5 separate regions of the Homo sapiens genome follow, and all the other regions are reported to be linked to region 4. Evidence: microRNA targets listed by miRTarBase, many of them from high-throughput screens and not tested one by one. Region 4 holds a microRNA gene; each other region holds the end of a gene's coding sequence. Distances are between the middles of the regions.

Region 1 (5,098 bases), not on the chromosome of region 4:
ACCTCAAGCCATCCACCCACCTCGCCTCCCAACGTGCTGAGATTACAGGCGTGAGCCACCGCGCCTGGGAAGTGCGGGAGGCCTTTTTAAAAAATGTAAACTCGCGTGCTCAAGAAGCCCTATCGGAGGGAAACACCCAGAAGAGGCCACCCTCCAAACACAGGGTAAAACAGGGGTGACGCACAGAGGTAACGGGAAAGCAGGAACGAGCGAGAGCGTGCGGTCCCGTACCTGCGCGTGCCTGCGTGCGCGTCCGTGCGGCCGCGACGCCGCCGCCGGTGCCTCTCTTTCTAGACGTGCGCGCGCCCGCAGCTCGCCCCCCTGACCGTAAAGAGGCCCGGCTGTGTCGTGAAAGGGGCCGCAACGCGCAGAGCGCTGGTTGACGGCCGGGACTCCATTTTGTTCGCCGTTACTCTGCGCGTAAGTCGCTTGTCCGTGGCTTCTCTGAGAAGAAAAGTTGAAAAAGGGTAAAAGTTTTCAGGAATATTCGGGCTCTCTATTGCTAAGCATAGCGAGTGTCGGTTTTCTCTCTCCAACAGACATCGCTATTGCGGTTCCGAGGCAGTGGGAAGAGATGCGGCCCCTGGACATCGTCGAGCTGGCGGAACCGGAGGAAGTGGAGGTGCTGGAGCCCGAGGAGGATTTCGAGCAGTTTCTGCTCCCGGTCATCAACGAGATGCGCGAGGACATCGCGTCGCTGACGCGCGAGCACGGGCGGGCGTACCTGCGGAACCGGAGCAAGCTGTGGGAGATGGACAATATGCTCATCCAGATCAAAACGCAGGTGGAGGCCTCGGAGGAGAGCGCCCTCAACCACCTCCAGAACCCGGGCGACGCGGCCGAGGGCCGGGCGGCCAAGAGGTGCGAGAAGGCCGAGGAGAAGGCCAAGGAGATTGCGAAGATGGCAGAGATGCTGGTGGAGCTGGTCCGGCGGATAGAGAAGAGCGAGTCGTCGTGAGCGCGGTCGGCGGTAAGTCGGGCACCCGCGCCAGGCCGAGGAGCGGCCCCAGCTTGGCCGCTCTTCGAGAGCGATGATTTCATCGAGATGCACCGGAATCGGGGGTGGGGCGGGAGAATAAAGGCGTGCTCGGGTCAGGGCCGATCTGGGCCCCGTCTTCGTGTTTTGTTTTTTGACGGTGGCGGCGTGGGATAATCAGAGTGGCCGGGTTTGGGCGTGATGCGTGTTCAGTGGAAGGGTCATAAATCTCAGAGTCGCCAAGGAAACAGAAACGGACAAGGTCCCGGGCCGTCCAGCAAGCGGGGGTGGAAATAGAGGATTTTCGGGGAAGACGTTGGACAAGTCAACGTTGCTAGAGACTGGAGTGAGTCAGGTGGTGGCCAGAAGAGGTGGCGTCCTGCACAGTGGCGTTCGTGAGGGTTTGGGGGTCGTTGTGCCTGGGATTAACCTCTCGATGATGAATTTCTTCCCATTGTGCTTTAGGTTTCCAGCCAATGGATTCTGGTCAACTGGTGGAGATTGGCTGACACCCTGGAGAAGCCGAAACCAGAGAGCCTTTTGTTTTCTCTTTTTTCCTGTCTATGCTCTGTCTCACTTAACACTACGTTTTCTGCTATGGTCTGTGGTTGATGACCTCAATATGAGTTTCGATTGTTAACGTGTTTTTGTTTGGGAAGTAATTTTGTTTGAAAATGCTCTCACATACAGGAATTAGGGCCTAGATTGTAAGCTCTTGCAGCAGTCACATTTGTTCCCGGGCTTTGGTGGTTATTTCTAAATTTTTGAGGTGCTTTGCTATTTCTTGTGTGACCTGATAGCTCCCTGGAACTTTGGGTCTGTGTGTGACACATGAGACTCACAGTTGGAGTTCTCCAGCTCTGGAGGTGCTGAAGGAGCTGCATTAATTCTGGAAGACGACTCCATGCAGCAACTACTGAAGAAAGGACCAGACTTCAACGGGGAGTGTGGATGGGCCGACCTGGCTGGGACTCGTGAATCTGGAGAAGAGCTGGAGAATGGATAGTATTGTCTGTATTTGGAGACTTTAATTTCTGTGTGAGACCAAAGGAGGAGAGATGTGTTTTGTTCAAAATTTAAATTTGTTGTGGTACACTATCTTATGTAACCTGTCTGGTGAGTTTGTTTGGACAACCTAACTCAGCTTTATTTGACATGGAACCTAAAATAGAAGATAAGATCTTGATATTCTGTACAAGTTGATGTAATACCCTGATGCGTTTTAGAGGACTTGGCATAAAATGAAAGATTGGCAAAGGCCCTTGAGGGGCTTGGGGATGACAGTATGGAACTGTCTGCATTGGACCCTAAACTGGACTAGAAGAGGCATCTTCAAGGTTCATACGTTGTCCAGCTGTAAGTTCATTTGAGTAGCAGACCTAACAAATATTTGAGGTCAGAACCCTACCATGTTAAAACAAACAAAAACTTACCATGTTAATAAAAGTATTCATTTGCTTGAAAAGACGAAAGACCTAAAAGGTTATTGAGAAATGTTAGTCCTTTAAGAATGAAATCTGCTGTCTCCCAGATGGTTCTCACTGTCAAATGGAGGGTGAACATCTTAACGGTTTCTGAGGCTCTTAGTCTCTAATCAAAGGGAAGCTTTCTCTCTCTGCTGTTGGGAACCGGGTGAGGAAGAAACACACTTGGTTCTTAGTGTGGGAAGAAACCACATGTAATCCTGTGGTCCAGGCCTCTGCCTTCAGAGAGCCAAAGCACCTTCAGTCTTTCCAATTGGAACATTGTTTTCTAGGCCTTGCACTGGGAATATAGCGATTACAGTTGCAGGGTGAGGGATGACATAGAGGAGATGTGATACCCCACCCTCCTTCCAGATTGAAGCCTTTCTGCCTCAGCTGCTAGAAGTGTTGCTGACAAACACCCTTCAGCTGGTTAGCCCTCTGGGCAGTGCCTTTTCAGAGGAGAGCTGCGTTAGCCAAAGTCATGCCCTTTTCCCTGGGTAGCCTACATCTAGTGAGTAATGGGCTGGAAATCTCAGGTCGCTATTTCTCTTACCCCAATTTGGGACAACTTTGAGGGACATGGTGGCTTCTGAGCTTGTGGGGTCTGCTGAGGCTTTTGTTAGGATTACATCACGCAGCCCACCTCCTCCCCCGTCCCAGCCTTGCATTCCTCCTCTTCCACAAGTGTTAATCCCTAAAAAACGTGCATCTAGTTTTCATCTTGGAGTCCACTTTCTGGGCAACCTAGTTGGTAGAAATCAAACAAAGCCATGTGTCCCTAGCACTAATAAAGATAGAATGTCCCAGGAGAACACTTGAGGGGGAGGTCTAGGAAAGCTTTCCAGAGCAAGTAACTCTTTCAGAGCTTGGCCTTGAAAGAGGAGCACAGCTTCCGAGGTCAGGAAGAGCAGGAGAGGCATGCTAGGCACAGGAAACAATGGAAGATGTTCAAGGTTTTCTGTGTGAGTTCCACACAGAGGAGGGAGAAGAAATGTATAGGACAGAATTATGAACTGGGAAACAACCACGAAAACTACATTTCGTACATTTGCCAAAACAAGAAATGTAACATTGGTACAACACTACCAACTAGACTTTTCTCTGCTTTCACCAGTTTCCCCACTAAGGCCCTTTTTCTGTTCTGGGATACTACATTGCATCGGGAAGTCGATTGTTTTCAATGAGTAAGATTTATAAATGACACGAAAGTGATCCTTCATCTCTCCCCAGCTTCCCAGTTCCCCTCTCAGGAAACTAGAAGTTTCTTATACATCCTTACAAATACTAATGTGTTTGAACGGCTTCCACTTTTTTTTGTTTTTGGTGAGACAGGGTCTCTGTGTCTCACAGGCTGGAATGCAGTGTTGTGACCACTCACTGCAGCCTTGACTTCCTGGTGTCAGGTGATCCTCCCACCTCAGCCTCCCTGGTAGCTGGGACCAGGCATACACCACCATTTCTGGCTAATTTTTGTATTTTTTTTTTTTTTTTTTTGTGGAGGTGGGGTTTCGCTATTTGTCCAGGCTGGTCTTGAACTCTTGGGCTCAAGTGATCACCTTAGCCTCCTGAGTAACTGGAACACCACCGCGGTTAATTTTTGTATTTTTTGTAGACAGTTGTTTGCCATCTTGGCCATTTTGGTCTCAAATTCCTGAGCTCAAGCCATCCACCCACCTTGGCCTCCCAAAGTGCTAGCAATACAGGCATGAGCCACTGCGCCCAGGCCACCTGTTTGTTTTGTTTTGTTTTTTACATTAATGGTAGCACACTGTATAATCTGTTCGTGTCCTTCATTTGTTTACTTGGAAGTCTTTTCCTATCTAACATCTAAATCTGCATTCTTTTTTTTTTTAAGGCTGCATAGTGTTCATTCTTATGCCAGAGTTTGAAAACTATTGTCCTAAAATCTTTCCAGTAACTCCTTAGTTCCTCTTTTTTATGATTCTGGTCACAACTGCAATGCAGCCACTAATTCCCAATTGCCCCAGCTCCTGAATTTCATACTCCTGGCTTGCTAGCAATTGGAGGAGCAATCCAATCTTGCATTTTCTAAGCAAAGAATGTGGTAAGAAGCATTCTGAGAGACAGTCTTACGTGGCTGTACAGTCATTAAATTTTCTGGCTGGAGTTGCCATATTTATTTATTTGTTTATTTATTTATTGAGACAGGGTCTAACTCTGTTGCCCAGGCTGGAGTGTAGTGGCATGATCTTGGCTCACTGCAACTTCTGCCTCCCAGGGCTCAAGCAATTCTCCTGCCTCAGCCTCCCGCGTAGCTGGGGTTACATGTGGGTGCCACCATGCCCTGCTAATTTTGGCATTTTTAGTAGAGACAGGGTTTCACTATGTTGGCCAGGCTGGTCTTGAATTCCTGGCCTCAAGTGATCCACCTGCCTTGGCCTCCCAAAGTCCTGGTATTACAGGATGGCAGAGCTGGAAATAACCTCAGAGAGCAATGAAGCTTTTCTGGGTTAAAATGTAGAAGTCATTAGTGCTGTTCACCAAATAAATTCCAATTCTCTGCCTTCTAGGCACAGAGTAAGATGGCACTTTCTGGCCCCCTTGGGGTTGGGTGGGCCCACGTGATTAATTCTGGCCGATGAGCTACAAAGGAAACTTACATCTGTTGCATCCAACCCAGAACCTCCAAAGCAAC
Region 2 (5,090 bases), 17 Mb from region 4:
ACAAGTTTAAACCATTAAATGGGCAAACATTATTGTGTAATCTGATAATCACTTAGTTATTAAGTAAACAAAAACAAGGAAAATGTAGTACCAACAAGACAGCTGGGCAGTATATAAGAGGCTGTGGCCCAAGGACACTTCCAAACTTGAGAACCTCATTCTTCTAGAAATCCACCCAGAACCTCCACCCTCTGACACCATGGTCAGCTCCTGTTGTGGCTCTGTCAGCTCTGAGCAGAGCTGTGGCCTGGAGAACTGCTGCCGCCCCAGCTGCTGCCAGACCACCTGCTGCAGGACCACCTGCTGCCGCCCCAGCTGCTGCAAGCCCCAGTGCTGCCAGTCTGTGTGCTACCAGCCCACCTGCTGCCACCCTAGCTGCTGCATCTCCAGCTGCTGCCGCCCCTATTGCTGTGAATCCAGCTGCTGCCGCCCCTGCTGCTGCCAGACCACCTGCTGCAGGACCACCTGCTGCAGGACCACCTGCTGCTGCCCCAGCTGCTGTGTGTCCAGCTGCTGCAGACCCCAGTGCTGCCAGTCTGTGTGCTGCCAGCCCACTTGCTGCCGTCCCAGCTGCTGCATCTCCAGCTGCTGCCACCCCTCTTGCTGTGAATCCAGCTGCTGCCGCCCCTGCTGCTGCGTGCGTCCAGTCTGTGGCCGAGTCTCCTGCCACACCACTTGCTATCGCCCAACCTGTGTCATCTCCACCTGCCCCCGCCCCTTGTGCTGTGCCTCCTCTTGCTGCTAATGTCTCCTTGTGATATTTGTCATACTATGAATGTCTTCATTAGTCATTTAAAATGCACTGTAGCCAGCCAGTCACTGGAAAAATGAACACTTCCCTGCCAGTTTGTCTCATGTGGCATTCAGAGTGGACATTCAGCTCTTCTAGGAAATGACAGACAATCACATTCATTAAAATATGTTATGCCAGGCCCCAATGCAGTTATTTTTAGATGAGCAGTGTCTTCATTCGAAGGGGACACTAACTGTGATGATCTCATATAATATTGTTTTCATGTATTAATAAACAGCCACTTCCCTAATATTGAAATCTTCTGATTTGTTAGTGATCTCATTGTGCGTGTGTGTGTGTGTGTGTGTGTGTCTTTACCTGTCAGTTCACATCAAGGGCCATCTCTCTTCAAATGCAGGAGAGCATGTTTAAGAGCCTGGGCTCTTGATTCATGTTCCCTGCATTGGAATCACGACTCCCCTAGGTATTTGTTGCGTGGCATGGGGCAAGTTTTTTAACCTCCTCAGGCCTCAGTTTTCTTTCTCTGTGAATAGAGATAATGCATTACATTCTTTAAATGTTAAGAGACATAACCCATGTAATATACTCACCACAGGGCCTGGTACATAATGCAGTATAGGCTCTTAATGGATACAGTTTCTGGCCGAGCGTGGTGGCTCACATTTGCAATCCCAGCACTTTGGGAGGCTGAGTGGGTGGAACACTTGAGGCCAGGAATTCGAGACCAGTGTGGGCAACATAGTGAAATCCCTTCTCTACTGAAAGTACAAAAATTAGTTGGGCGTGTTGGTGCACACCTGTAGTCCCAGCTACTTGGGAGGCTGAAGCAGGTGAATCACTTGAACCCAGGAGGAGGAGGTTGCAGTGAGCCGAGATCATGTCACTGCACTCCAGCCTGGGTGACAGAGCAACTCTGTCTCAATAAATAAATAAATAAATAAATAAATAAATAAATAAATAAATACAATTTCTGCTGTTACTATGATTGAAACAATACCCTGGGCTAGAATAATATCTTAGCATAATTTTCTTTTTGACAGAACAGCAAGAAAATTTGTATCATTGTTGCGCTGTCTTCTACAACTCAAAATTAAGTTTTGGTATATGCCTCAAGTGTCCCTTAAAAACTCCAGCAAGTTGAACATCATGAAGTCATCTACATTTTGTCTGACTGTATTTCTACTTCCAGTATGTTCCATTATTTGTTGTGGAAATTTTGAGTGTTTTCCCTAGCTCAAGTACTTTTTTCTTGTTTCCTTACTTCCCCCTCCCTCCCCTTCTAATCCCTTTACCTTCCCTCCACCTCCCCTCCCCTTGCCTGCCTACCTGCCTTCCTTCCTTCCTTCCTTCTTTCCTTCCTTCCTTCCTTCCTTCCTTCCTTCCTTCCTTCCTTCCTCCCTCACTCCTTCCTTCCTTCCTTCCTTTTTTCCTCTCTTAACATAAAATGATCTTTCAGAACACAGTCTACCTTCTAAGTCAAGATTTCGGGAAATTTATGACATCTGTGGCAGTTTTCTCATAAAAGTTTTACATCTTTTAATTAATAGATGCTCAAAGTCTTAGTATTTCCAGACTGAAACTCCTTTATAATTTTAGCCCCTAATGTTACTGAGGTTTTTTCATTTTCTTGATAGTTTTACTCCTTTGTTTTGGGCTTTAATCACCTTGCTTTGTCTTAAGAGAACATGGGTGGGACTTTTCCTTGAGACTCAGTTTTCTCATCATCAAAACTCAAACAAGTGTTATTCTATGTAGATGAAAAAATGTGTCACAATATGTGCAAAATATCTTATTTATATAAATATAAGGGTTTATATTTCAGCTAATAATCCAAAGTATATTAAAACTGCTTTAAATCCAAAATTTCTATAAATCAGAATTTTATTTATTAGCTGTGTTATATTTCCAAAGAAATGTAACTAAGAGCTAATTATTATTTCTGAAATGTAAAAATAAAGAAGTTTTAAGTTGTCAAGCGACTGCATGAATAGAAGTTAACATTACGTGGGCTTCACTCCAGCCTAAGTTAGGCGTTATGGTCTTAGCATATCATAAAAATGCCTTGCAGACACTTTCAGCTTCAGCCTTTTCCATTCACTCTAAATTATTCTACAGAGTACAGACTTGTCATTTCATACATCAGAATTAACAAACCTTTTATCCTCTCATATGTTTTTCTTTGACAACTGCTCATTACAGGATGCAGGCTTTGGTTTTAACATTATGCTTTATTAGCTAGAGTGAAATCAAAGACTATAGGTTTTATATGGTCTTTTCAGTATTAAAGTATATGAGGCTTGTAATTTCCTGTGTCCACAAGAACTGGGCCACAGCAGGAATGAGATGACACAGTGTATCTGCGTAATAAAGAGACTATTTGCAAAGGTGTAGCTAGAGTTCAGGGAAAGCAACAAGGGAAAGCTCAGTACCCAGGGCTCACAATAACAAGGAGCAGGTACCCCGGGTCTGAAGGCCTATGCAATAATTTGGGTGAAATGTCCCAAGGGTGGCATGCGAAACTTCTTAGAATAAGTATGCACAGACACTCAAGTACAGTCATTGGCTTTGGAGAGAGTTATGGTGCTCTGAAGGGTCCAAAGATGATATGGAAGACATTGTGGTGAAACCCAAGGTAGACATAAATTTATGAATGGGAAAGTGTGACTGCAGTTATTATTCTGTGGTCACATCAGCTTTATCTAAATGCACAGTAGAGATGGATTTTAAGTGAATGAAACATTGACTTAGTTGATGTTTCATTCACTTCAAAGTCTCTCAGTACTATTTGCCCATGCTAAATATATAGCTTTGGAATTGCTCAAGCCTTTCTAGCTAGTAAAACTAAGCAAGATAGAACTCCAGAAAGGCAACAATAGATGCCTGTTTTGATTAAAGAAGTAACTGAAATAAGAGTTTTAATTCCCATGAACTCCCTTATAACAGTCCCATCTGGCCAGTGAGTAAGGAAGAGGTTAATCAACAAGCTTGGTGATTAAACAAGTTGGTTCCACCAATTGTTTCAGCTGCACCACCTAAGTCAGAATTTTACAGGAAACTCAACAAACCTAGTAAGACTCATACGCCACTGCAGACTCAGCTAGTGTATTCTTTTCGATGCCAGTTTCAGAGCCCAGACAGGTGCAATTCACATTTTCATGGCAAGGAACGCAGTATACATATACAATTTTGCAACACAGATATATGAGTTCACTAGCATATTGCCATAACCTATCAAGGCAGACTTGAACTTGATAACCATTAGAAGCATGTTAATACCATACATTGATGACTGTGATACTAGCACATGAAAAATCATTAGTGAATTGAAAATCAAGTCCAGAAATAGACTAACGTACACAAAAGAATTTATTATATGAAAAGGTGGCACTTTAACTCAGTAATGGAAAGATGTATTATTTAATAAATGATGTTGAGCCTTGGTCACATCTGATTATAAAACATTTAAACCTCATATTTTTATCTGTATAAATTCCTAGTAGGTAAAATATTTTAAAATATAAAACATGAAACCTTGAAGTTAACAGAAATTATGGGATAATGCTTATGTAAATTTATAACTGGAAAGGCCTTTTAAAATATGACACATACCCAGGAGCTGTCAAAGAAAAAAATTCATAAATTTTACTGCATCAAAAGCAACATGAGGATAGAGAAAATTCCTTTCATATCTGATTTTGCAGAGAGGTTGTGTGTATAGTGATTAAAAACATGGACCCAGTGCTGGGCTGGCTGAAATAAAATTACATTTCCCCTGCTTACTGGCTTGAATCCCACCTGTGCCTTAAGTTTCTCATCTGTGAAGGGAGGATTATAATAGAATTTACCATACTGGATTGTTGGGACTAGTAATTGAGCGAATATATGTAAAACAGTAGAACAATTGCAAAACATGTCGTTTGTTATTTTGTTATTCCAGCATCCAGCAAAATTCTCAGTATACAATATTTAGAGAAGAAAGAAAAAGAAAGAAAGAAAGAAAAAAGAAGGAAGGAAGGAAGGAAGGAAAGAAAGAAAGGAAAGAAAGAAAGGAAGGAAGGAAGGAAGGAAGGAAGGAAGGAAGGAAGGAAGGAAGGAAGGGAGGGAGGGACAGGAATTCCATAAAACATTGGGTTTTTATTTTGCTTAAGTTTCTGAAAAGAACAAGTGTAGTTAGTGCATAATTGTGCCAACGATTCCATTCTAGTCTTTTAATGTAAATATTTCTTCCTTATCTCTAAATGGCTTATTCTTTTTAAGTTCTTCTTTTTTAGGCACATCTTATCCTTTCTTATTTATTTATCCTTTAAAAACTTTAATTATTGGCTTTAAGTAGGTA
Region 3 (5,101 bases), 9.0 Mb from region 4:
CTCAGATTCTATTCATTCCCTAGACTATCAGTAAAATAAGTACTTATTATAGGAAGTCAGCAGTTGCTAACTCTTTTTTTTTTTTTTTTTTTTTTTTTGAGGCAGAGTCTCACCTTGTCGCCCAGGTGGGAGTGCATTGGTGCGATCTCAGCTCACTTCAACCTCTACCTCCCAGGGTTCAGGCGATTCTCCTGCCTCAGCCTCCTGAGTAGCTGGGACTACAGGCGTGTGCCACCATGCCTGGCTAATTTTGGTATTTTTAGTAGAGATGGGGTTTCACCATGTTGCTCAGGCTGGTCTTGAACTCCTGACCTCAAGTGATTCACCCAATTCAGCCTCCCAAAGTGCTGGGATTACAGGTGTGAGCCACCACACCCAGCTGAGTGTTACTAACTCTTAAGAATGAATTCCCCTGCATATTCTTGGATGAAGAGTTCAGAAAATGCTTTTCTGAAGTTTTGTTTATTGTCTGTAATTTATCCTGTCTTAATCCAATTTATCTTTCTCTCTTGCAGGAGTCCGAAGCCTTTCTCTCAAATCTAGTAGTTAACAAGACCATCTTTGCTAAAGTAGACAGATTAGCAGGAATTATCAACTTCCAGAGACCCAAGGATCCAAATAATTTATTAAATGACTGGTCTCAGAAACTGAACTCATTAATGTCTCTGGTTAACAAAACTACGCATCTCATAGCCAAAGAGGAGATGATACATAATCTACAATAAGGGTCTTAGTGCTTTAGAAAAAAGTTAAAATTGGAAGTCATTAAAAAAAGACTGTTATAATGGTGTATATGTTGGGGTTTTTTTTCTAAGCTTCTTTGTCTTAAATTTTAAAATAGTGAATATGTTTGAGACTCCCTTTGACCTTTCAGTTCCCCAAGTTCATTGTTAACTTTGCATTTGCAATTGGTGCAAAAATACAGATTTCTGTCGTCTGAATACACAAAAAGTTGTGTCATAACTTACCCAGATATGTTTTTCTATCATTTGAAACCTTTTTAGCTACTGTTTGTTTTCATTCAACTAACAAACATATTCCAATAATAAAAGCAGTATATACATATTTCCTTTCTACAGTTACCTCTGATTCTCAACATTTTGTGGGGTAGTGATTTGGCAAGTGTTTTTTAAATAAAACAAATCTCATTGTAAAGCTATCAGTCATTTAGTAGAATAGAAAAGCAACATAGAGCATACAAGAACATTTGGGATAGAGTTGTGATTTGTGAAGAATTTGTACTTTGATATTGTGGCGGAAAGTCTAGACTGAGTGTGTATGCTGGTAAACTGTAGACTTTTTTTTTTTTTTTTTTGAGTCCGGCTGGTTCCAATCACAGTAGCTTGATTGCTTTCAGCCCTCATCCTCTCACTTGATCAGTTGTTCAACAGAATCAGCTGACATAATTGACACAGTTTATTGGGTGTTAAGTCCGCTCTATAGGGATAGTGACTACTTTTTTTTTTTTTTTTTTTTTGCTCTTCTTCCTCTCCCCTTTCTTTATATGGGTTTAAATTTAACATAAAGTTGTTTTTATAAGGCTTATTTGTGGCTTTAACTTGTAAGTCTGATTACATCATTATTGTTCCAAATTCATTATCTCTGTAGGAACTTTTAGTTCCATTATATGAACACTGGATAACCTAATTTTTTTTAATGCTTTAAAAAAATGGCAAAAAGACGTCAGGCCACCCTCATAGTAAGTGGTGTAGTATTAAAATATTTTCACGGAATTAAAAGTAGCTTGCTGTCAAAGAAACACCTGAGATGAATTGGTGTGAACGAATTTTGCAAGTTTAATTTGATTTATTTCAGAGAAAATAGAAAAAACAATGTTAGAAGGTTATTTAAAATGATACTTAAATAAAGAAAGTGTGAGGTCTACTTTAAAAAAATTCAAATGAAGAGAAAAAGAAAAACAGCATTCTAGAAATGGCATTTCTCCTAATTAATTTTCCACTTAATGGAAGATTATCAATTGTCCTATTTTATGATCCCAGGACTGAAGACAGTTGTGGGATATCTGTCATATTTATCCTGTGAGTCATTGTGAATAATGACATACAGTACTGAAGTAATCTGATTTTATTCTTTGGAAATTCAATGCATTGGTCACACTAATAACATCAACATCTGCTATCACTTATCTTTTTAAAACTAACCAAAAAAGGCCGGGTGCAGTGGATCCCAGCACTTTGGGAGGCCAAGGCGGGTGGATCATCTAAGGTCAGGATTTCGAGACTAGCCTGGCCAACATGGCAAAACCCTGTCTCTACTAAAAAAAATACAAAAATTTGCCGGGCGTGGTGGCGTGTGCCTGTAGTCCCAGTTACTTGGGAGGCTGAGGTGGGAGAATTCCTTGAAGCCAGGAGGCGGAGGTTGCAGTGAGCCAAGATCACACCATTGCACTCCAGCCTGGGTGACAGAGTGAGACTCCGTCTCAAAAAAAAAAAAACAAAACTGGAAAGTTCAGAAACAGAAGTTCACACTAACAGAGTATGGTTTTAATTTTCCTTTGAATGAAAAGGATAGAAGATAAAATTGTGTATTGTTAACATGTAAATAAAATTGGAGCTAATTTGAAACTAGCTTCTCAATAACTTCATCTTTCTAGAGACTCATTACCTGTGGGCTTGTCAAACCTGGACTATTTGGCCAAATAGGTTGCTATAGAGATTGCAAGTGTTCCTCCTCTTTATTTTTTTCATATTTTTTGAGACGGAGTTTCACTCTTGTTGCCCAGGCTGGATTGCAGTGTCACGATCTCGGCTCACTGCAACCTTTGCCTCCCATATTCAAGCAGTTCTCCTGCCTCAACCTCCCAAGTAGCTGGGATTATAGGCGCCTGCCACCACACCTAGCTAATTTTTGTGTTTTTAGTAGAGATGGTTTCATCATGTTGGCCGGGCTGGTCTCAAACTCCTGACCTCAGGTGATCCACCCGCCTTGGCTGCCCAAAGTGCTGGGATTACAGGCATGAGCCACTGCACCCAACTCCTCTTTCGTCTTTCTTTAACACACACTAGGCTCTTTGTGTATTATGATTCAGTGCTATTTGTAACTGTGTCCCAGTGACCAAATTGCACTCGACTCGATCAGCTGTTCATCCATTTCGTGTTTTTTCCTGTCAAACATTAATCCAGCAAATATATGAGGTATTTACCAATTTATTTTCTTAGTATTACAAAATAATTCATTAGCATAAAGTACAATAGTGAAATATTTGAGTTGTTCGGAACCTCAATTAATCCTGTTTTACATTTCAGACCTAAAGCTGGCAATCAGGAGAAGAAGCACTTTGTTTTAAATGTGGAGAAGATAACACTTGATTCCATTTCATTGTCATTAGTGTATTAACCAGCAGGAGAGGTGATGAGCCATTTTTCAAATGAAATACCTTTTATTTCCATATAATTTTTTTATTTTAGAGTTCAATAGCTGTTTCTATGATTATCCTCAATTTCCATATGTTACTGAATCTGAAAAACATCTTTAAAATTCAAACAGTTCCATTTTCTCTCTTGTAAGTGTTAAATGTGATAAAAGTACATATTTTAAATTGTTTTCAGCTCTTGGATATAGCAGCAATAAAAACACTAATTTGTGGGTATTTAAGAAAACCTGGAGAATAAACTCATACTTTAAAAGATCACTTCTCTTTTCAGTTCTCATTGTCTGAAACAAAAAGCCATAATTTTCATTTTTACCCCAAATCATCTCTCTCTAAACCTACTTTTTTGTTTTGTCTTTTAAGACTTTATTATATTTTTAGAGCAATTTTAGATTCACAGCAAAAGTAAGTGGAAGGTACAGAAATTTCCCATATCCTCCTTGCTCTCACACCTCCCTCATTGTCAACATCCCCCACAGAGTGGCACATTTTTTACAGCTAATGAACCTGTTTTGACACCATTATCACCCAAAGTCCGTAGTTTACGGTTCATTCTTGTACATTCTGTGTGTTTGGACAAATGTATAATGGCATGTATCCACCATTATACTACCATAATACTTCACCGCCCCACAGTTCTCTGCCAGTTCATATCTTCCTGCAAATCCCCTGACAATTGTGAGTCTACGGTTTCCATAGTTTTTCCCTTTTTCAGAATGTCATATAGTTGGAATCACAGTAGGTAGCCTTTTTTTTTAGATCGGCTTCTTTCACTTAGTAATACGCATTTCCATTTCCTCCACATCTTTTCATGGCTTGATAGCTTATTTCTCTTTAGTGCTGAGTAATATTCCATTGTCTGGTTGTACCACAGTTTATCCATTCAGCTCCTGAGGGACACCTTGCTTATACATTTTGGCAATTACAAATAAAACTAAACATCTGTGTGCAGGTTTTTGTGTGGACCAAGTTTTCAAATCCTTTGGATGAATCTGAACCTGCCTTTTAAGCGGTGACAAAACACCTTGCACATGTTTCGAAAGCCAGCTGACGGACTTTGCCCCTCCTAAACTCCCGATTTGGGGTTGGTGGCTTAGGCCGTGCTTTATTGGGCACCTGACAAGTGGTTCTTCATCTCAAGGCCCATCAGAATATGCGCGGGGCTTGTTACACACAGATGCTGGGCTCCACCCCCAGATTCACACTCAGTCGGGATGGAGCGGGGCCCACGAATTTTAATTTCTAACAAGTTCTCAGTACCCGAACTACTGGTCCATGGACCGCACTTTGAGAACCACTCTTCTTGACAACATGGGTAGTAAGGACTAGAAAAGAACTGAAATGTGTTGGTGTTTTAGATGTTTAGGGGAAAAAAACATGGATATCAGTTAAGGTACATGTGGCGGTAAAGCTACAGCGAGATGCTCATCCGGAGCCCGTTGTTTTAGGAGTTTAGTGGTTTGAAAGTCTGCTTCCATACTGCCTTCTGTGATGCAGAGAAATGGTCTTGGCATTTTTGAGAGGATATTAAACAATTTTCCTAACTTAGAGCTTTATTTTTTTTTATTTTTTATTGTTTTTATTTTTTGAGACGGAGTCTCGCTCTGTTGCCCAGGCTGGAGTGCGGTGGCGCAACCTCGGCTCACTGCAAGCTCCGCCTCCCAGGTTCACGCCATTCTCCTGCCTCAGCCTTCCGAGTAGCTGGGACCA
Region 4 (5,101 bases):
GAACACCTAGCCTAGTGCCATCAGTCCACCGGGCCTGAGAGTGTCCCCCGCACTGTGCCCTGCAGGCTGAGGCTGCAGGAGGGGTGGCTTTGTGGGGTGCTGAGGACAACAGTCTCCATGGACGCCCTTCATGCATCAGCACCTCCATGGCCCTCGGGAGCACACGCAGAGGAGCCAGGGCCTGGCCTGAGTGTTGGGAAGGGAAGGGAGTTTTCTGGGCTGAGGTCAGCAGCGGTGGGGCTCAGAGAGAAGGTCCTTTTCTTGTGCTGGAATTCTGGACTCCCCGTTTTGGGCACTCACCGAGGGCCCTGTCGAGGAGCCCTGGTCTTCTGGGGTCACCCTCAATGCCCTGAGTCAGTCCCAGGCTCTTGAGCCATCCCTTGGAGCTGGTGCCACGGGGGGAAGGGCAGCTGGGGCCGGAAGCCACCTGCCCAGGGCATGAGAGAGGGTCCCCAGCCCTCCCGCGGGCCCACCCCCTTCTGTTTCCTGTCAGTCTGTCCTCCCCAGGGAGGGAGGGAGGGAGGGCGCTCATCCCCTGCGGGCGGGGGCGGGGCGCGCTCTGAGACCGTTGGGCGCCCTGAGATCTGGCCCACGTGGCCTCGGGGTTATAAGCCCTGCCCTCCCTGAAGGGAACCCCACTTCGGAGCCTGGAGCACAGGGCGAGCTCTCCTCCGCCCTGCAGCCTCAGGTAAGGATCCGGACCTTCACTGCTGCCCCAACTGGGGCTCCTCAGCTCGGGGCCTCTAGGGGCTTGGGCTGCTGGTCTGGGTGGAGGCGCGTTGGGGGTGTCGAGGAGCTTGGGTGCAAGCCCCATGCGGGAAGCTCAGGGCAAAGCGCCTTGAAACCCTCTCTAGTGAAGGAAGGTAAAATGGCTCCGGGACCCCAGGCGGGGAAAGAGGTGTCCAAGGAGGAGGGCTGGAGAGTAAGGCGGGGATGGCAGAGGGTACGCAGAGGCTGAGAAGTGGGACCAGTGTCTCAAGGGGCGCCAGCCTCTTCCTCCGCCCAACATGGCCACCATTTTTGTTGGGATAGCCTTGGGCTCCTGCCAGGGGAACAGCAGGGCAGTGAGGGAGTCAGGACTTTGGGCTGGTGGGGAGGCCGAGAATCAAGGCTCTGGGGAGTCAGGACTTTGGGGCTGGTGGAGTGGCTGGGGACTGAGGCCCTGGGGGGTCAGGACCTTGGGCTGCTATGGAGGCTGGGACTGAGGCTCTGGGGGAGTCAGGACCTTGAGCTGGTGGGGAGGCTGGGAATTGAGGCCCTGGTGTGTTCAAGACCTTGGGCTGGTGGGGAGGCCAGGGCCTGAGGCCCTGGGGGGTCAGGACCCTGGGCTGTTGGGGAGGCTGGGGACTTAGGCCCTGGGGGGTCAGGATCTTGGGCTGGTGGGGAGGCTGAAGGGTGGGGACTGAGGCTCTGGGCAGTCAGGACCTCACGGTTGGGGTGGACTGGAGACCAAGACCTTGGCAGGGGAGCTGTGGCTGCCTCATTTGGACGCTGGAGGGTGGCTAGCGTGGCTGGAAGCGGCCAGCCAGGGGTTCACAGAACTGAAGGTGAGGCCTCCAGAGGCCCTAGTCTCTACCTGAGTGTCTCTGAAACTGGGGGGATGGGGTGGAGCCTTTAGGGGGAAGGGAAGAGGGAACTGAAGAGGAAGTGGGGGAGGGAGGTAGAGGAGGCAAGTCTGGCGCCATGCTGAGTCACCGCCCACAAGGCCCAGGGCGGGCCCTCGGGGGGCCCTGGCAGGGTTGGGGGGATCTTAGGAAGCCACAAGGAGGGCTGGGGGGCTCTTGGAGCAGGAGTCAGGAGGCCTGGGCAGCCTGAAGAGTACACGCCGACGGACAGACAGACAGTGCAGTCACCCATAAAGTAGAAAGCACTACTAACAGCACTGGAGGGTGTAGTGTTTCCTACTTTATGGATGAGTGTACTGTGGGCTTCGGAGATCACGCCACTGCTGCCGCCCGCTGCCCGCCACCATCTTCCTCGGCGCTCGGGGACCTCGTGTGACAGGTGAGCACCTTACGGCCCCTCCCTACCCTGCCCAGATGCCTGAAAGGCCTCCATGGCTTTCCTGCCCTTCCTGGTTCCGGACAGCTGGGGAAAGGCCACAGCAGCTCCTCTGCTGCCCTGCAGTCTTTGGGGGCGGGGAGGGCTGGACATGTGGAACCCTGATGCAGCCGCAGCGTCAAGGACGAGGAAGGGGTGGGAAGGGATGGTACGTGGAGGGGAATGGGTGGTGGGACCAGGGACCCAATGCTAATAAAGACTGGACTGTGCTTCTCTTTTGTCTGAGACTCTGTTGCTGGGGTGGGGAGCTGAATGCGGGCGGCAGGCACATGGACAGTATGGGCGCACAGAAGGGCTGGGAGGGAGAACCTCTGTCGCTCCTCCAGAAGATACGGGTTTGGCCCTGCCTATGAGATCAGAAGAGGGCTCTGGGCCTGGCCAGGCCACAGCCGGAGGAGAGAAGGGCCTGGGCCATCTGCAGAAAGGGGCAGGGATGTAAGGCATCCTCTCACCTTCTACCCTAGCTCTGGCCCTATCCTGCCCCCCTACATACCCAAACTGAAAGCTGCCTACATCCAGTTTTAATCTAAGAAAGTCTAGGGGGTCCTAGGTCATATAAAAATTGGGCAAAATCCACTGTGGCACATACACAGCATCTTAGACAAGGGCACAGACACTCATATACAAAGCACACACTGAGATGCAAATGCATTTACACACAGAGGCCCCATTCAGTGTGCCAGTAACACACACACAGACACATGTGACATGACTGGCATGACACACACAGGGATTACACACACCCAGGGCACATACATATTCAGTAGTACACACATGCAATGATAGAAACATAGGGCGTGTCTTACACATAGAAGAGCACACACATACAGTGACATTTGCATAATAAACACGGTGGCTCCATACACATACATAGATAGAGACATGTTCATATATCATGATAAATATAGAATACATAGATACATGGTGATATATATATATAAATCAAACCATGTCATTATGCATATTTACATGACGATATGAGCATGTCATATATTGTGTAATCAATTACTACATTGTGCCATATAGTAGCATCCATATCTATATATATCATGATGTGTTGTAATTTATAAACTCATGCAATGATAGCCTCCCATGCACATAACAGCACACACATAGACACAGTGGCAAACAAACATAGATGCAATGACACAGAAACATACATACAGATACACCCAATGTGTTTTTGTTACGTTTTATTATGTGACTCATAGACACATAATAGCACACACATATATACACACAATGGCCCCTTCACATATACAGAAATAGATAATGTCTATTCTATAGATGCATACTATACACACGCATGCGCATAATGGCATGCATATATACTCTGACCTAAACAGCAACACATCATGCAGTGGCGTGCGTGTTGACCTACACACTGCTTTAGGGAAGTGAAGATGTCCACTCCTCCCCATGCACCCCCTACCTCCAGTTCCATTGGCTCTTGCCTGGGTGGAGCCCACAGTCAGGGGCTCTAGGGTTCAGTATCACCGCTGCTATTCTGTGGGGGTGCCACACGAGGGCCCCCGACCTTGGCTGAAACTGGCTTGCCTAATGAGTCCCGGGTTCAGAGTGGAGAGGGGCTGCCTCTCGGGGCTTCTCCCAACACCCCTGGCTCTGGGGACTCTGTCTAGACCCCTGCCACTGCATATAGACTGACTCCTGGCTGAGGGGATTCTCACGTCCTTGTCCCCCAAATTATTTAGCAACAAGATCTAAGGCTAGACAGAAGATGAACTTCCAGGCAATTCGGGACAAAGCCAACCCAACAGGCCATGTGGGCTTCCCTGGTGGCCTGGGACAGCCAGGTTGCCCCCCAAGTGCAATCTGCCAGGAGGAAGCAGAAGGAATTCTCCGTCTATTTCTACCTGTCTCTTTGCTTGTCTTCCCGGTTTCTTTCTCTTGGTTTCTGTCTCTCTCTTTGTTTCATCTCAAGTCCCATCTTTTCTAGTTCTGCCCTTCTCTGTGGCTGGATCTCTGTCATACCCTCCCCCGTTCTGTCTCTATCAGTCTCACCCGATGTAGGGAGGACCATCTGCACCCCACTCGCCTCTGTACTCCGGAAGGTGTGAGAATGTGTGAAGATGAGGGTGGGAGGCCACATGTGGGAGCCCTGGGCTGACATGCCGTGAGAAACCTGCTCTTCCTTCTGTCCCCGACCCTGTCAGCCGGTTCAGCCCACCAGTCCAGCGCCATCACCATGGAAACCAGCAGCCGACTTCCTATTGGTGGGTGGGAGGGGAGGAGGAGGAGGAGGAGGGGAGGGCTGGCTCTTCCCGGCTCACCCCCCCACCCAATTCTGAGGCTCAGCCCTCCTCGGAGCCCACCATCTCGAGGCTCCTGGACTGTAAGGGACCCCTGCAGTCCCCAGAGCAGAGGCCAGCAGGGGCTGAGACTATGAGGCAAGCAGCCCATCGACCCAGGCCTCCTTAGGACCAGCCCAGCCACCCAGCAAGCGAAAGAGCAGCAGCAGAGAGCAGAGCCGGAGATAAAGGACCACAGCGGACCACTGGGGATCACCCCCAGCAGCTCCTGAAGCCTCTGGCCGGGCTGAGGGGTTGCGACAGACGGCCAGACCCACAGACACTGACAGACACACAACGACACCGATGCACACAGCTGCACGACACTGACACACTCAGATACAACCAGGGACAGCATCACATACTGCCACAGCCCTGCAATACAGACACCCACACACACACACACAAACAACTGGCAACTCTGAAATGGGCAGACAGTGACACACAGCACCACCCCCCTCAACACACAGAAGTGGGGGCACCCATCTTCCCAACACATGAGACAGCATTGACCTGCACGGACAGACCTGGAGACACACACACGCACCCTCACCCAGGCGCAGCTGTCGGTGGCCTCTGCACATCCTCCCTACCCCCACAGGGACACCCTCGCTCCTCCACATACTCGCGCACACACACAGCTACCAGCAAACATAGCTCACATACCCCTGGCTCCAGCTCCAGCAGCCCTGGCGCCTTCTGCAGCCTCCTTTGTGGGTGGGGAAGAGCTC
Region 5 (5,085 bases), not on the chromosome of region 4:
TGTTTCTCCCCCCAGAATTCTGTCCCTTTCTCCCTGGAACCCCTTACCTTTCTCCCCGCCAGAACCCTTCCCCTGTGGAATCCCTCCCCGCTCTGGAAACCCTCCCCTTCCTTCCCCACCCCCACCCCCGGAATTCCTCCCCTTTCTCCCCCTCAGAACCTCTCCCCTTTTTCTGCCTACCAACCCCTCCCCTTTCTGCCCCCCACCCCCTGTGGAAACCCTCCCCATTCTTCCCCCTGGAAACCCTCGCCTTCCTCCCACTCAGAACCTCTCCCCTTTCCCTACCCCTTGGAACCCCTCCCTTTTTCCCCCTACCAACCCCTCCCCTTTCTCCCCCCAGAACCCTGTTGCTGCTGAGTAGCTGCTGCCACCCATCCTGATATCCATGCTTGTTTTCAGGCAACTGGTTTCCGGAGCTGAGACACTGAATCTTGTTGCCGAAATCCTTAAATCTATAGACAGAATTTCTGAAGTTAAAGACGAGGAGGAAGACTCTTGAGGACCCCTGGGTGTTCTCAGCATGAAGCTCCGTGTATACCCTGAGGTCACCACCGCTCGATCTAAATGTGCAGTTGTGTCCTTAAATATGCAGTCTTCACCCAGAGTAAAGTGTTGATCGCAAGAGTCCAGTGTCGTGCCCTCAGCCAGTTCTTGGCCACCACAATGGGAGCAGCCCTGGCCGAGTTGTCTCTGTGGTTTCTATGCAGCCCTTCTTGGCGAAATTCCTGCGATCTTATAGATTCTAATGAGCTCTTGGAAGACATTGTCATAAAAGCCAGTGATTTTAAGAAAAAGAGTGGTTCTGGAATCAATGTTTTCCAGTCCCATCCCAGAACATCAGTTGTAAGATAAGTACAATTGGTTGTCCTTGATTTCATAAGTAGAACAAACACTAAATGTGCCTCTGAGATGGCCACCCCGGGCAGGGACCTGTGCCTTCCGCCGATGCTCAGGGCTCCCTCTGGCTCCCGGGTCACTCTTGTGGCCCCAGTGGGTGGTCCCTGCAGTCATGGCCTGAGTGCGCAGGGGCCACCGCGTGGCTGCTGCTGTCCTCCTCCGGGACCCACGGGGACCAAGGTCACACGTTCCGTGCTGTGAAGCTGTCCAGATGTGCCTCTTTGGCTGGGGGTTCTGGTGGACGTTTCAAGTGGCATTTTGTACAATGCAGGTTAGAATTCAGGAATTTCAAGTATGTGCCCGGGTCTGTCAGGTCCCAGTTGCCTTTCTGACGGCCCCCCTCAGAGGGACGGCGATGAGCACTAAATGCTTTTTTGACTATTTTCCTATAGATTTTTTTTAAAACTTTTTTTTCCTCCTGTTCCAATTGATAGCTTTCTTATTTAATAAATTCTGTAGTTCACCGCACTGTCTCTTCTCTGCTGACTTAGCCAGTCCTTGGAGAACGCCGTGGGCTTCCACACCTCACTTGCTCTTGCCCTAACTGGTGCCTTGTGCTGGCAGATTCTCTCCAGGTCCTCAGCCCTTGGGGTTAGGGGCAGACTCAGACCACTGCTGCCTGGGCCTGACCACTGGGACCCACACGTGATGGACGTGTGAGTCACGCAGCTGCACGTTTCAGAGCTGGACAGACTGGATTCTAGCATTGGATCATCTTTTCGGATCATGTGGTTGAATTTTTCAAACAAGGCGTCTGAATTGCTAGACCCCTAGCCTTAGCTACAGGTGAAGGCCAGAGCTTTCCAGCAGTCACTGTGGAGCGGTCCTGCTGCGTAGCCCTATGCGCCTCCTGCTCCTGCTGGTTGGTGAAAGCAGGCTCTGGATTCTGTTGGCAGAGCTGACTTGAGACAGGGTGCTGTGGTTGGGAAGTGCCGGAATGAGGTTCTGAGTGTATAGGCAGCTCTGGGAGCCCTGTAGCAGCAGGATGGGGGCATCTGGGGAGGATGCCTCAGGCCACAGGCCTTCCCTGAGGCCCTTTGGGAGAGACAGCATTTGATGGGGTGGGGGTCACAAAGGCCAGATCGCCAGGCGGGTCCCATCCACCAGATGCGTGTGAAGTGGGGTGGTCCCCTGGCCCTCATGCCAGCAGCTCATGGAGCAGGTGGGGCCCAGGGAAGCGCGGTGGGGATGGGCATGTGGGTTTTGCGCACCCCTCTCTTTTGATGTCTGTGTTTGAAGCGTTTGATAGTAAGAAGTTTAAAAATACAATTTGTGGCGCGGTATTTAGTGCCTGCCTTCTGCCTCCAGATTTCAAGCCCGATGCAGGGACTGAAACGAGGCGCTCGAGGAGCCCCCAGCCGCCTGGTTCCATCCCCTCCATCTGTTTCTTGCCAATCCCTAGCTCCCAGTTTGGCCTCACCTGGGCCTAGCCCTTTGCCACCAAAAGCCCACCTCCTAGGTAGGCAGGGCAAACCCTCTTTATAGTTCTCCAGCTGATGCCCCTAGCTCACCCCAGGCTGGAGTGGAGGCCCCCTCAACTGGCTGGGCCCAGGATGTCTTTGCAGCACCGATACTTAGAAGCTCTCAGGAGCCAGGAACTGTAGGCCCCTGCCCAGCTCCCGGCCGAGTTAGCCCTGGCACGTTCCTGAAGGAATGAATGCCCACTTAGGGGAGGGCCCCGGGGCAGCTCTCCAGGCCAGGAGACCCCAGAGGGTGTGCACAGGTGACCAGGGAAGCGAGTTTGTGTGGTGCGGGCCCCCACCCTCTGGCCTCAGTCTCCTGCACGTGCCTGGAGATCGGCCTGGCCTCGGCGATCCTGAGCATGCAGGGCAGGCTGGGGAAAAAGCCTTTCACGTAGACTTTCTCATCCGTTGCTTAACCAAACCCCAACATGTCCGTTAACAGAGGATGAAACAAGCACAGAGAGGTCCAGCGATGGCCGAAGGTCACAGCCAGTAAGGGCCGGTCTTCCGGATCGTGACCAGGTGGCCGGGTGCCTGTCCCTGTCTGTCCCCTGCCTTGAGGTCCCGCGTCCACCCGCGCCCCTCCAGAGCGCGCGGAGGCGGCCCCCAGGGCGGCCGCGCGAGGGCAGCATCGAGCCGTTCGCCTCTCTAGTCCCGGCAGGCCGCAGCGGCCGTCCCGGCGTGCCCCGCGCCTCAGGAGGCGGGACTTCCGGCGCGCGGCGCTCTTGTTCTGCAGCCGCCGGAAGCGTCGAGTCTGCAGTCGCCCGGGCGACGGCGGGGTCCGCGCGGCCAGGTAAGGTGTGCGCCCAGCAGGTGAGGCGCGGGTGGCGTCGGCAGCTTCAGGGCTCTCCCCGTGGAGGGGGCGCTGTCCCGAGGAGCGGATAGCCGAGGCCCGGGACGGGGGCGGGGCAGCGCCCAAAGTCGGGGAAACTGAGGCCCGGCGTGGCCCCCGTCCGGCCGAGCCTGGGCGCGCGGGGATTCTGGCCCTGGGAGCCCCTCGGCTGGGAGCGGGCTGCGGGCTCCGAGGAGGCTCCGGCGGGGCGGCCCCGGCTGCAGGGCGCCCGCGTGCGTCTCGGGGACTGCGCCGGCGATTCCGCGGTGGCCGAGCCTCGGAGGGGGTTTCCCCAGTTCACGCAGCGAGCAGGAGGCGGAACTGGGCCTGGGCCGGGTCTGTCTCCCAAGCCAGTGCCTAAACGCCCATCGTCCTGGCGCATCCTGGGGTTCCCTGGGCCCAGCCGAGTCTGGGTGGCGTCCCCGCAGCTGGGGCTGGAGGGACCGCCTGCTGCGCTCCGTCTTGGTGGGCAGCCCTCATGACCAGCCCTTGGGAGAGGGGTGCGGGGAGAGGGACAGCCCCTGATGTCAGTGGCTCAGCACGTGTGACTTTGACCTCCTTCCTGCTGATCATTGCTCACCTGAGCGACACGGGGAGGGGGAGGCAGCAGCCTCGTGTGAGGCTTCCAGAGGAAAGCGTCTCCGCCGGCCCGGAGGCGCTGAACCAGCCTGCGGTCGCTGCCAGCTCTGCCTCTGGCCGGCTGTTAACTGAGTTTACAGGTTCACAAGCATTTCGGGCATAAACAAGGGGCTTTGTGAAGGAGTGAGGGGACCTGGGCTGCTGATGCGGCTAACGGTGCTCGCGGGTGGATGCTTTGGTTTTGTTCCAGTTGGGCAGGGCCCCAGTCAGCCTCCAGCAGGGAGAGCCACGCCAAGGACGGGGGAGGGCGTTTCTCTTTGTTGTTGGGTGTTTTGGGCTCCCGGGTCTGTGCTAGTGATTCCTTTAGATTTTCTCTGCTAATGTTTCATTCTCCCACTCTCTCTCTAGCGTCCTTCTCCCTTCAGACTTCCTGGACCACAGTTCCTAAGAAAAAAGCTTGACAAACATTTGTTAGTGTCAGGCACTGCCACGTTCCAGGCGTTGTTCTGGATGTACAGAGAACAGCCAGCCTTCCCTTTGGGAGCTTCCTTCCCAACCATGCTGTTAGTGCCTGCCACCTGGGCAGTCTCAGTGTGTGTCTCTGTGAACGTTTCTCAAATGCCCTCTGTGGTCCGGCTCTGTGTCATGGGAGAGCAGGATGGCCAAAGTGGGTCACGGGCTGTGTCCTTGCCCTGTAGTGACTTTGCCACTGCACCCCACACCTTCTACGCTGGGTGGCCAGTTTCCATGTGGCTTGGTGTGGGAGCAGAGACGGGACAGTGGGGCCTGTCCTTGTTCATCCACTCCCTGCCTGTGCTGGTTGCAGCCTCAGAGCAGGCGGGAGATGTTCTTGGGGCTTAGGCTCCTGGCAGAGCACATAGCAGGAGTTTGTGGGGTCTGAGGTTCCTGTCCCAGGGTTCCCCGATTCTGTGCCTGGCCTATTAATCTTTCTCTGGGGAGCCCAGTGCCCACTGCCGAGCAGGCTCCTGCCATCCCCCATGGGCGGGTGTGTCTGAAGGAGAATGGGATCCCGGCACGGTCTTGGTTTCTAACATCTCGGGGTGTGTTTTGGAGGCAGGCGGGAGTCATGGATGTAGATGCTGAAAGAGAGAAGATAACACAGGAGATCAAGGAGCTGGAAAGGATTTTGGATCCCGGCTCCTCGGGCTCCCACGTGGAGATCTCAGAATCAAGTCTCGAGTCAGATTCTGAAGCAGGTAAGCCCCTTGTACCTAGCCTCCTGGGGTCCTGGTAAGAACAGCTGGTCTGCCTCCTGGGTTCCTCTCAGGCACATTAGGGAGTGATGGTAGCCGG

What was found. The annotated mature microRNA hsa-miR-142-3p reads UGUAGUGUUUCCUACUUUAUGGA and lies in region 4 at 1,891-1,913, shown strand. An mRNA with a match to its seed (bases 2 to 7 or 8) in the 3' UTR can be bound and repressed. Matches are read on the target gene's strand: a 7mer-m8 pairs with bases 2 to 8, a 7mer-A1 pairs with bases 2 to 7 and ends in A, and an 8mer does both.
Region 1: the mRNA of MRFAP1 is a reported target of hsa-miR-142-3p. Seed matches in the 3' UTR shown: 7mer-m8 at 1,557-1,563.
Region 2: the mRNA of KRTAP4-5 is a reported target of hsa-miR-142-3p. The part of its 3' UTR that is shown has no 7-base or 8-base seed match.
Region 3: miRTarBase lists PSMD12 as a target of hsa-miR-142-3p. The part of its 3' UTR that is shown has no 7-base or 8-base seed match.
Region 5: miRTarBase lists ENTR1 as a target of hsa-miR-142-3p. The part of its 3' UTR that is shown has no 7-base or 8-base seed match.

The regions. Positions count from the first base shown.
Region 1 is chr4:6,640,289-6,645,386 of GRCh38, forward strand. MRFAP1 (Morf4 family associated protein 1) reads left to right here and starts at 397. Exons shown (of 2, transcript NM_033296.3): 1 at 397-970; 2 at 1,442-2,441. The coding sequence starts at 575. The coding sequence ends at 958. It overlaps LOC124900653 (a long non-coding RNA gene), which reads right to left and starts at 333. Exons shown (of 2, transcript XR_007058007.1): 1 at 232-333. RefSeq lists a silencer at 1,365-1,434.
Region 2 is chr17:41,144,877-41,149,966 of GRCh38, reverse strand. KRTAP4-5 (keratin associated protein 4-5) reads left to right here and starts at 142. Exons shown (of 1, transcript NM_033188.4): 1 at 142-1,043. The coding sequence starts at 200. The coding sequence ends at 745.
Region 3 is chr17:67,336,467-67,341,567 of GRCh38, reverse strand. PSMD12 (proteasome 26S subunit, non-ATPase 12) reads left to right here. Exons shown (of 11, transcript NM_002816.5): 11 at 516-3,652. The coding sequence ends at 725. Among named protein-coding and RNA genes, the nearest start is that of PSMD12, 28 kb to the left of the region's middle.
Region 4 is chr17:58,328,057-58,333,157 of GRCh38, reverse strand. MIR142 (microRNA 142) reads left to right here and starts at 1,840; the gene lies at 1,840-1,926. TSPOAP1 (TSPO associated protein 1) reads left to right here and starts at 4,363. Exons shown (of 32, transcript NM_004758.4): 1 at 4,363-5,101. It overlaps TSPOAP1-AS1 (TSPOAP1, SUPT4H1 and RNF43 antisense RNA 1), which reads right to left. Exons shown (of 5, transcript NR_038410.1): 2 at 5,037-5,101. It overlaps MIR142HG (MIR142 host genes), which reads left to right and starts at 638. Exons shown (of 1, transcript NR_186557.1): 1 at 638-2,270. RefSeq lists enhancers at 171-240, 741-810, 1,611-1,750, 3,541-3,620, 3,721-3,890 and 1 more and a silencer at 321-630.
Region 5 is chr9:136,398,202-136,403,286 of GRCh38, reverse strand. ENTR1 (endosome associated trafficking regulator 1) reads left to right here. Exons shown (of 10, transcript NM_001039707.2): 10 at 400-1,365. The coding sequence ends at 499. It overlaps SNAPC4 (small nuclear RNA activating complex polypeptide 4), which reads left to right and starts at 3,117. Exons shown (of 24, transcript NM_003086.4): 1 at 3,117-3,153; 2 at 4,850-4,988. The coding sequence starts at 4,859. RefSeq lists silencers at 2,670-2,719, 2,870-3,079, 3,150-3,279, 3,350-3,459 and enhancers at 1,968-2,904, 4,634-5,085.